2 linked regions of the Homo sapiens genome follow. The gene in region 2 interacts genetically with the main gene of each other region. Each region holds a gene or a part of one and is shown on either strand. Other genes may lie near its edges.

The links.
Region 1: changes in PDSS1 (region 2) and STK11 together harm fitness more than expected from each alone (negative genetic interaction), as found in Homo sapiens cells (one large-scale study listed by BioGRID).

The regions. Positions count from the first base shown.
Region 1 is NC_000019.10:1,215,778-1,219,277, reverse strand, and holds part of STK11 (serine/threonine-protein kinase STK11), read right to left. Parts: intron 3,011-3,500; exon of another isoform or gene 2,880-3,010; intron 862-2,879; coding exon 778-861; intron 1-777. UniProt on the Homo sapiens protein: Tumor suppressor serine/threonine-protein kinase that controls the activity of AMP-activated protein kinase (AMPK) family members, thereby playing a role in various processes such as cell metabolism, cell polarity, apoptosis and DNA damage response.
Region 2 is NC_000010.11:26,695,574-26,701,179, forward strand, and holds the start of PDSS1 (all trans-polyprenyl-diphosphate synthase PDSS1), read left to right. Parts: upstream 1-2,127; 5' UTR 2,128-2,138; coding exon 2,139-2,267; intron 2,268-5,606. UniProt on the Homo sapiens protein: Heterotetrameric enzyme that catalyzes the condensation of farnesyl diphosphate (FPP), which acts as a primer, and isopentenyl diphosphate (IPP) to produce prenyl diphosphates of varying chain lengths and participates in the determination of the side chain of ubiquinone.

The DNA.
Region 1 (3,500 bases), on a different chromosome or scaffold from region 2:
GCCCAGGGAGCACGGGGGCCAGAAAAGGGGCTCTGGAGGGACCCTCTGCACCCACCTTGCCCCTCCTCGGGACCAGGGCCCACCCTGCCCTCAGCCACCCCTCTGAAAAGGCCCAGGGGCCCCAGCGTCCCAGGAGGAAGGAGCCTACGGGGAAGGGGAGGACAGGGCTGACTCTTGGGGCAGCGTTCCTGCGGGGCTCACGTCCCCCACCCTGCCCATGGGCGGGGGATGGTGCCTCCTGGACGCCCCCCCAAGCAGGCTCGGGCCCATGCAGGACGGTCCCAGGGCCCCTGACCGCGTGGCTCAGGGAACACAGCCCCAGCCTCAGGACCACTTCTGGCTCTTGCTCTGGGCACAGGGCCTTAGGAAGCAAAGTCCCCGTAGGGAGGCTGTGCCCGTAAGACCCATGGGGGTGTCCACAGATGACACGAGGACACGCCCAGCCACGACCAAAATGGCCCACAACGGTCAGCCCGCGTGGCCTGTCTCAGGCAGACCGTGGCTACACCCCTGGTTAGCCTGGGAGGAGACTCTGAGAAAAAAGGGACTTGACACCCCACGGGCCCAAGACACAGGGGCCAGGGCTCAGGGCCCCTTTCAGCAAGCTGCGCAGCCATTGCCACAATGGCTGACTTCCGGGGAACCAGGGAAGGCCACGGCCCTCGTGTGCCAGTCTCCTTCAAGGAGACGGGAAGAGGAGCAGGCCTCGAGGCAGGCGGACCCAGGGCCCCAGCCCCTCCCACGGAGGCCCCGCGGTCCCAACACCGGAAAGGATATATTTTCTGCTTCTCTTCGTTGTATAACACATCCACCAGCTGGATGACATTTTTGTGCCGTAACCTCCTCAGTAGTTGAATTTCCCTGGGACAGAGAGGACAGGGGTGTATCAGCCGACCCAACGTCAGGATGATGGCCTGGATCCCTGGAGTCGGCCTCCCCATCTCCCTGTGGAAGTGGCGTACCTCCTCCCTTCCCTAGAGAGAAGCTGTGAGTTCACAGTGCTGTGGGAAAGGGCCCTGCAGGGGCCACGCGTCCAGGCTCAGGGCGGTAGGGGGTGGGAGCACAGCGCCCTCTAGTCTGTCATCGGCCGGCGAGGGCTTTGGAGGACACAGTTAGGACACTTTTTTTTTTTTCTGAGACAGAGTCTTGCTCTGTCCCTAGGCTGGAGCACGGTGGCCCGATCTCAGCTCACTGCAACCTCTGCCTCCCAGGTTCAAGTGATTTCCCTGCCTCAGCCTCCCGAGTAGCTGGGACTACAGGCACGTGTCACCACAGCCGGCTAATTTTTTTGTATTTTAGTACAGACAGGGTTTCACCATGTTGGCCAGGATGGTCTCGATCTCCTGACCTTGTGATCCGCCCGCCTCGGCCTCCCAAAGGACACTCTTAATTGAGCTTTGTAACTCAGTAACAGTTTTGCTTCCTAGAAACCAGACTACTGCAATGGTAGCACAGATGGAGCCCAGACTGTGGCAGGAGCCAGGGTGAGTTGGAGCCCTGGTGATGGCTCCGTCACACAGTACAGTCCCACGCAGCCAAGGGCTCCCAACTCCGAGGGTCCCACTCCTTGGAGGGTGGGCCGCAGGTGAGCTGGAAGGATGGCCCATAGGAAGGGGCAGGCGAAGAAGGAGACGCCACAGAAAGAGACATTGTGGGGTCCTGCCACACCCACCCGCCTGTCACTGCCCCCTCTGCAGCTGCCGCCCAGTTGGCCACGCCCACCTGCCTGTCACAAGGGTGGGGCACAACAGGCCAGAGAGCACAGCCCCCTCTGCAGCTGCCGCCCTGTCGCAGACACTTCATTTCTCCCAGCACTATAGGAGGCCGAGGCGGGTGGATCACCTGAGCTCAGGAGTTCGAGACCAGCCTGAGCAACACGGCGAAACCCTGTCTCTACTAAAAATACAAAAATTAGCCAGGTGTGGAGGTACGTGCCTCAAGTCCTAGCTACTCGGGAGGCTCAGGTGGGAGGATCACTTGAGCCTGTAGTTACCTGTGATCGTGCTACTGCACTCCAGCCTGGACAACAGAATAAGACCCTGTCTCATAAAAGAAAAAATTAAACAAAAACAAAAATGACGAGGAGCAAGGTCCTCACACCCAGTGGGTGGGCGTGGAAGCGTCTGCAGCTTCTCCAAAGGTCTGTTACCCTGTGAGCCAGCAGCTCCACTCCCAGGTACACACCCTGAGGAACAGTACACGCCACGCAGAAACGGAGCACGAGATGCTCACAGCAGCAGGACGCACAGCAGCCGAGATGTGGAACCACCCAGGGGCCCTTCCACAGACGAGGATCAGCACAGCCCATCCACGCACTCAACAAGACTCAGCCACAAAAACCAGTGAGGCTCTGACTCGAGCCACAGCCTAGCTGCACCTTGAGGATGTCACAGTGAGACACTAAAGGACACACAGTGTGTGATGCACTTTTTTTTTTTTTTTTGAGACAGGGTTTCCCTGTCGCCCAGGCTGGAGTGCACCTCCCAGGCTCAAGCGATCCTCCCATCTCAGCCCCGCAAGTAGCTGGGACTACAGACGTGTGCTACCATGCCCAGCTAATTTTTGTATTTTAGTAGAGACAGTTTCACCGTGCTGCCCAGGCTGGTCTCGTTTGAACTACTAGGCTCAAGTCATCTGCCCACCTCGGCCTCGGAAAACGCTGGGATGACAGGATCCCATTTCTTGTTTTTTTTTTTTTGGAGACGGAGTCTCACTCTGTCGCCAGGCCAGAGTGCAATGGCATGATCTCAGCTCACTGCAACCTCTGCCTCCCGGGTTCAAGCGATTTCTCCTGACTCAGCCCCTGAGTCGCTGGGACTACAGGTGCCCGCAACCACGCCCAGCTAATTTTTGTATTTTTAGTAGAGATGGGGTTTCACCATGTTGGCCAGGATGGTCTGGATCTCTTGCTCTCGTGAGTCACCGCGCCCGGCCGACAGGATCCCATTTCTATGCAATATCCAGGACAAGCCAATCCAGAGCCAGGAAGTGGATTCAGAGTGGCCAGGAGCTGGTGGAGGGGATGGAGAGTGACACAATGGGAATGGGGCTTGCTTTTGGGGTGACCGAACGTTCTGGAATTAGAAGTAGTGGTTGCACAGCCGTGTGAATGTACTTAATGCCACTGAATTGTACACTGTGAACGAATGAGTTGTACAGTATGTAAATTCCATCTCCATAGTTTTTTTTTTCTTTTTTAATTCTTAACAGGAAGCCCAAGCATGGAGCATAAAAAACAGCTGGGGGGCCAGGCGCGGTGACTCACGCCTGTAATCCCGACACTATGGGAGGCCGAGGTGGATCACCTGAGGTCAGGAGTTCGAAACCAGCCTGGCCAACATGGTGAAACCTTGTCTCTACTAAAAATACAAAAATTAGCCGGGCGTGGTGATGGGCGCCTGTAATCCCAGCTACTCAGGAGGCTGAGGCAGGAGAATCGCTTGAACCTGGGAGGCGGAGGTTGCAGAGAGTCGAGATCTCACCACTGCACTCCAGCCTGG
Region 2 (5,606 bases):
TCTGTACTGGCTCTTTTCATTTGTCTAAGGGCAGCAAAATAGACTAAAGTTGTTTTCAGACTGCACAAGAGAAGTCTGTTCTTTAGCACTTACCTGCATAACTCAGATAGTGTTTTTAACTTCCTCAACTCATGCTTGGCCTAGTGGGGTCAAAAGAACTACTTGTGAATTCCGTATGTCCAATTGGTAGCTTACTGTTTTTTCTCAAGAGTTTAGCTATACAGTAACGTTGGAAGTCTTGAGGAACTTCAGCTGCTGTCCCTACTTAGCCTTGCAATACTACGGCATCTTTTTTTCTTTTTCTTTTTTTTAAAGACGGAGTCTCACTTTGTCACCTAGGCCGAAGTGCAGTGGCACAATCTCGGCTCACTGCAACCTCTGCCTCCCAGGTTCAAGTGATTCTCTTGCCTCAGCCTCCTAAGTGGTTGGGATTACAGAACATGCACCACCATGCCCAACTAATTTTTGAATATTTAGTAGAGACGGGTTTCACCATGTTGGCCAGGCTGGTCTCAAACTCCTGACCTCAAGTGATCCACCTGCCTCGGCCTCCCACAGTGCTGGGATTACAGGCTGAGCCACTGTGCCCCCGACCTACAGCATCTTTTTAAGAGCAATGTTTTCTGTTTTAATGTGGCCAAGCAATCTCTAAACGAACATGGTCTGACAAAATTGTGTAGTGACATACTTGACAACTGGGTGAGCTTGAGTGTGATACTTATTTGACCATACGGTATTTCCTCTATATGTTTCCTTATCTTTATATACAAAAAAGGGCAAATGATAATGTCTTAGTCATAGGATCAAGTACAACCCAAGTGCTTACTGCTACACTCTACTTGGCAAATTCCACCTTATGAATGTTTCTTAATATATAAACCTAATCTAAACCAAGATAAGCTACAGGTGCATATTAACAATCTTTACTCATAAAGCTTTGCATATTTTTACATACTATTCTTCAAGATGGAAAAAACACCATCAAACTGGCTTATTTTCATAGATGTCTTTATATAGTCTATGATGTCTTCATTCCATAAAAAATCCACACGATTAAATATGAAATTAATGTACCCAGCTATGAGGCTACCGCATTCTTTAACCCAAGAACAAGAAAATACATGAATCAGAGAACTGCAATTACCTACTTGCTGGTCTATTTCCTCATTAGAGTGAATTTTTTGAGGACTAAATTGCATTTCTCTATCTCTAATGCTTACCCCCTATCTCACTGGCTCTGTGTGTTTGAGTGCATGCGCTGAATGTTTATATCACTTAATTTCTGTTCGGAACACGCTGTCTCTTAGCACCAGTAGATCTGGCCTTAGAGCTAAGGAAAGAAGGCCTTTCTAACCCATAAGGGGTACTAATCCTGTACAGACTCCAATATCTCCCGGGCTGGGTACACGCAGGTTCACACCCAGGTGTGAGCAAGATTGCCAAACTATACCTATAAGGCGTTTGGAGGGGAGAGTCCAAAAGTCACGAGACCCGGCTAATTTAGCTACTATTTCACAACAACCCTGATCGTGGTCGGACTTGTTTCTAGGAAGATGCGATGGGCTGGAACTTCCTTCAAGAACAGATTGCAAAAGGCAGCCGACCAGGGCGTGTCAGGTCACTGCCAAGGGAAGCAGCAGCGGAAACCGTCGCCTCCGGCTTAGGCTGCGGAGCGGGAACCCCATTCTCTGAGTTATGTTTCTGCCTAAACACGCAGAACAAAAGAGTTCGTGGCTGCAAGGGTGGCGCGCGGTAGTATTTCTTGCTAATAAAAGGTCCCCACAGGGACATTTTTGCTATGACTGCAGGCGTGGCCAGTCTCCCTGCACAGCTTCCGGGAAGAGGTGGGGATAGGAGGCTCGCCCCGGGGAAGGTTACGCTCGGGGTCCCCAGACCAGGTCTCCGCACGCCCCTGCCCCGTCGCCTCCCGGGAGCGGCTGCAGTCCCCGTTGGCTGCAGACGGGCAGACACCCGAAGTGTCCGCGCCGGCAGCCGGACCGCAAGCGAGGAAGAGCGAACCGCGCTCCCGGGCCTGGCCGAAGCGCTTCCTGTGCCAGGTTTCCGGCTCCGGGTCCCGGGAGGAGGATCGCGGGCCAGAGGCGGAGCCGCCGCCCTGCCGCGACTTTCAGACTCCGACCATGGCCTCGCGCTGGTGGCGGTGGCGGCGCGGCTGCTCCTGGAAGCCGGCGGCGCGGAGCCCCGGGCCCGGCTCCCCCGGCCGTGCGGGACCGTTGGGGCCGAGCGCCGCTGCCGAAGTCCGCGCGCAGGTGAGGTTGGGAGGCGCGCGCCCGGCGGGGCTCAGAGGTCACGGCTCCAATGACAGCAGTGGGCGGAATGAATGGGAGCGGGGAGCACGTGCGTCGCGACGCGGGGGCGCGCGGGGTAGCTCCGGGGTAGCTCCGGGGTGGGACTCCGGAGCTGAGGGGTGCTCGCGGTGGGACGGAGCCGCGCGTTGGACTGAAGTAGGGGCGCCCTACACGGGGTTGCAGAAAGCGGTGTCCTGGGGACCCCGGGAGCGTTTTGGGGGGTGGAGAAAGCGGTGGGATCCGTGTCCTGGGGGAAGCGCAGGAGCGATCAGATTGACCGCTGCTATATGGACAAGGTTAAGCCTGGAGAGCGACTGCAGCTATTTACTTTGGAGTTAGAGGAAGACAGATCTTGCCTGAAATTTTAGAGCCAAAGTGCTCAGAGCTCTCTCCGAGAAACGGAGGATCGAATCGGCCTCGGAATAGTCCGAAAAGGTCTTGTGGAGAATGCAGGGCTGGTGCTAGGGTGGACCGGACCTTAGTTGTCCAGCAGTGGCCTCGGGAGGAGAGCACACCTGGATGGGGCTGGAATGACACTGGAAGGAGAAAGGCCCGAGGCCGTCAGGAGGAGAGAAACCCTGGAGTCATCTAAAGTCAGAATCTCAGCGATAGCCCATTCTTTCAGGGTCTCCTCTGCTGCCTTTGGGTTCCGATCTCCTTTTTCTCCCTTTCTGGTCAGTTTAGCCCCTGTAAATGGACACTGTGAGCCCTTCTGCGCTTTGTAATGATTCTCAGTGTGCCATGGGGTAGGCCCATGCTATTAGCATAACCGTGCAAAATCTATGGACTCACTGTTACTTAAGTTTATTTGAATTTAGTACTCTTTTAATTCAGATTTGGTATACTTTATGTGTCCGTGTTCTCATCAAACATCATTTCCCAGTATGAAATATATAACACTTATAAATATCTACTTTGTACCAAAGTAGATGCGTATCACAAATTATCCAAAACAAGGCTTGGGCCAGGCACAGTGGCTCACACCTGTAATCCCAGCACTTTGGGAGGCTGAGGTGGGAGAATCGGTTGAGGCCAGGAGTTTGGGACCAGCCTAGGCAACATAGCAAGACTCTGTCTCTATAAAAAATAGAAAAAATTCACCAGGTGGGGTGGTGCATGCCTGTAGTTCTACCTACTCAGGAGCCTGAGGGAGGAGGATTGTTCGATCCCAGGAGTTCAAGATTACAGTGAGCTGTTTATTGTGATAGTGCCAGTGCACTCCAGCCTGGGCAACAGTGTGAGACCCTATCTCTAAAAAATCTAAAGCAAAAAAGACGTTTGGAGACCAAGTGGCAGCTGGGCAACTAGACAATGCTAGAGAGTAAAGAGAACAGAATATGGGGGGTGAGGGGCATGTGGGAGAAGAGGCTTAGAGGAGGAAGGTAGGCTTTGCTGTGATCCATTTCAGGACTGTTCTCTCCAGACTTCAGATATTTCTAGTTCCACAGAAGAAGCCAGTATTTGAAGAGATGGGTGCATCCACCCTCTTATGCCACTACATGCTTCTTCTTCTTCTTCTTTTTTTTTTTTTTTGACACAGAGTCTCACTCTGTCGCCCAGGCTGGAGTGCAGTGGCGGAATCTCGGCTCACTGCAAACTCCACCTCCCAGGTTCAAGCGATTCTCCTGCTGCAGACTCCCAAGTAGCTGGGATTACAGGCGTACACCACGACCCCCAGCTAATTTTTGTATTTTTAGTAGAGACGGCATTTCACCATGTTGCCCAGGCTGGTCTGGAACTCCTGACCTCAAGTGATCCACCCCCTCCTCGGCCTCCCAAAGTGCGGGGATTACAGGTGTGAGCCACCACGCCTGGCCTGACACTTCTTTTTAAAAAAGTTTCTTGCCCACCAAGCAACCTTAGCCAGGGAAAGTGTGCTTTTCTGGAGAGAATATGCTTTATGGCCTCCCCGTCTGCATGACGACAAGGAGGAATTCTGTGGACTCATGATGCCAAGATCATGTATTTCTGATGTGTGTGTCAGTGATGCCTTTCACTATATGTTAATATGTTAGCATTCTGGTGTCTGCCTCAGGCATGTGTATTTTGGTTACTTCAAGTCTCTTAGGGCCTGATAGTCCTTGGGGACACAGAACTACAATAACTAAGCCACAGGGACAAAGAGCGGCAATAATTAAGCCACGTCTTGCTCTCCACCAGAGCTCTACTACCTCCTAATGGTTGTACATTCTTCTGACTTCACTAGTAGTGTGAACAAATATTGTAATACAATAAAAACCAGTGTGCATGTGATCGTGCCAAATCACTTCTCAATATATCTTTGATTTTTTTTTTTAATTTATTTTTTTAGAGACGGGGACTTTTTGTGTTGGCCAGGTTGGTCTTGAACTCTTGGACTCAAGCCATTCCCCCCTCCCCCCCACCCCGCTTGAGGATTGGCACACGGCCATGTATTTGATTCTTACCCAGCACTTTCTCTTTAGCTGAGCGTGGTGGCTCACGCCTGTAATCCCAACAGTTTGGGAGGCCGAGGCAGGAGAATCCCTTTAGCTCAGGAGTTCGAGACCAGCCTGGGCCACTTAGTGAGACCTCCTGATATGGTTTGGCTCTGTGTGCCCACCCACATCTATCTCGAATTGTAATCCCCAATTATATTTGGGGACCAGGGAGGGTCAAGGGAGGGACCAGGTGGAGGTAATTGGATCATGGGGGTGGATTCCCCCATGCTGTTCTCATGATAGGGAGTTCTCACAAGATCTGCTGGTTTTATAAGTGTTTGGTAGTTCCTCCTGTGTTCATTCTGTCTCCTGCCGCCTTGTGAAGAAGGTGCTTGTTTCTCCTTCTCCTTCTTCCACCATGATTCTAAGTTTCTGAGGCCTCCCCAGCCATTCAGAACTGTGAGTCAATTAAACCTCTTTCCTATAATTATAGATTGCCCAGTCATGGGTAATTTCTTTATAGCAGTGTGAGAATGGACCAATACAGATAATTGGTACCAAAGTAGTTGGCATTGATATAAGATACCTGAGAATGTGGAAATTACTTTGGAACTGGGTAACAAGCAGAGGTTGGAATAGTTTGGAGGGCTCAGAAGAAGAAAGGAAGATGTAGGAAAGTTTGGAAATTCCTAGAGTCTTGTTGAATGGCTTTGACCAAAATGCTGAAAGTGATATGGACGATGAAGTCCAGGCTGAGGTGGTCTCAGATGGAGATGAGGAGCTTCCTGGGAACTGGGCAAAGGTCACTCTTGCTATGCTTTAGCAAAGAGACTGGTGGCATTTTGCCCCACCCTAGAGATCTGTGGAACTTTGAGCCTGAGAGAGATGATCTGAAATTGGA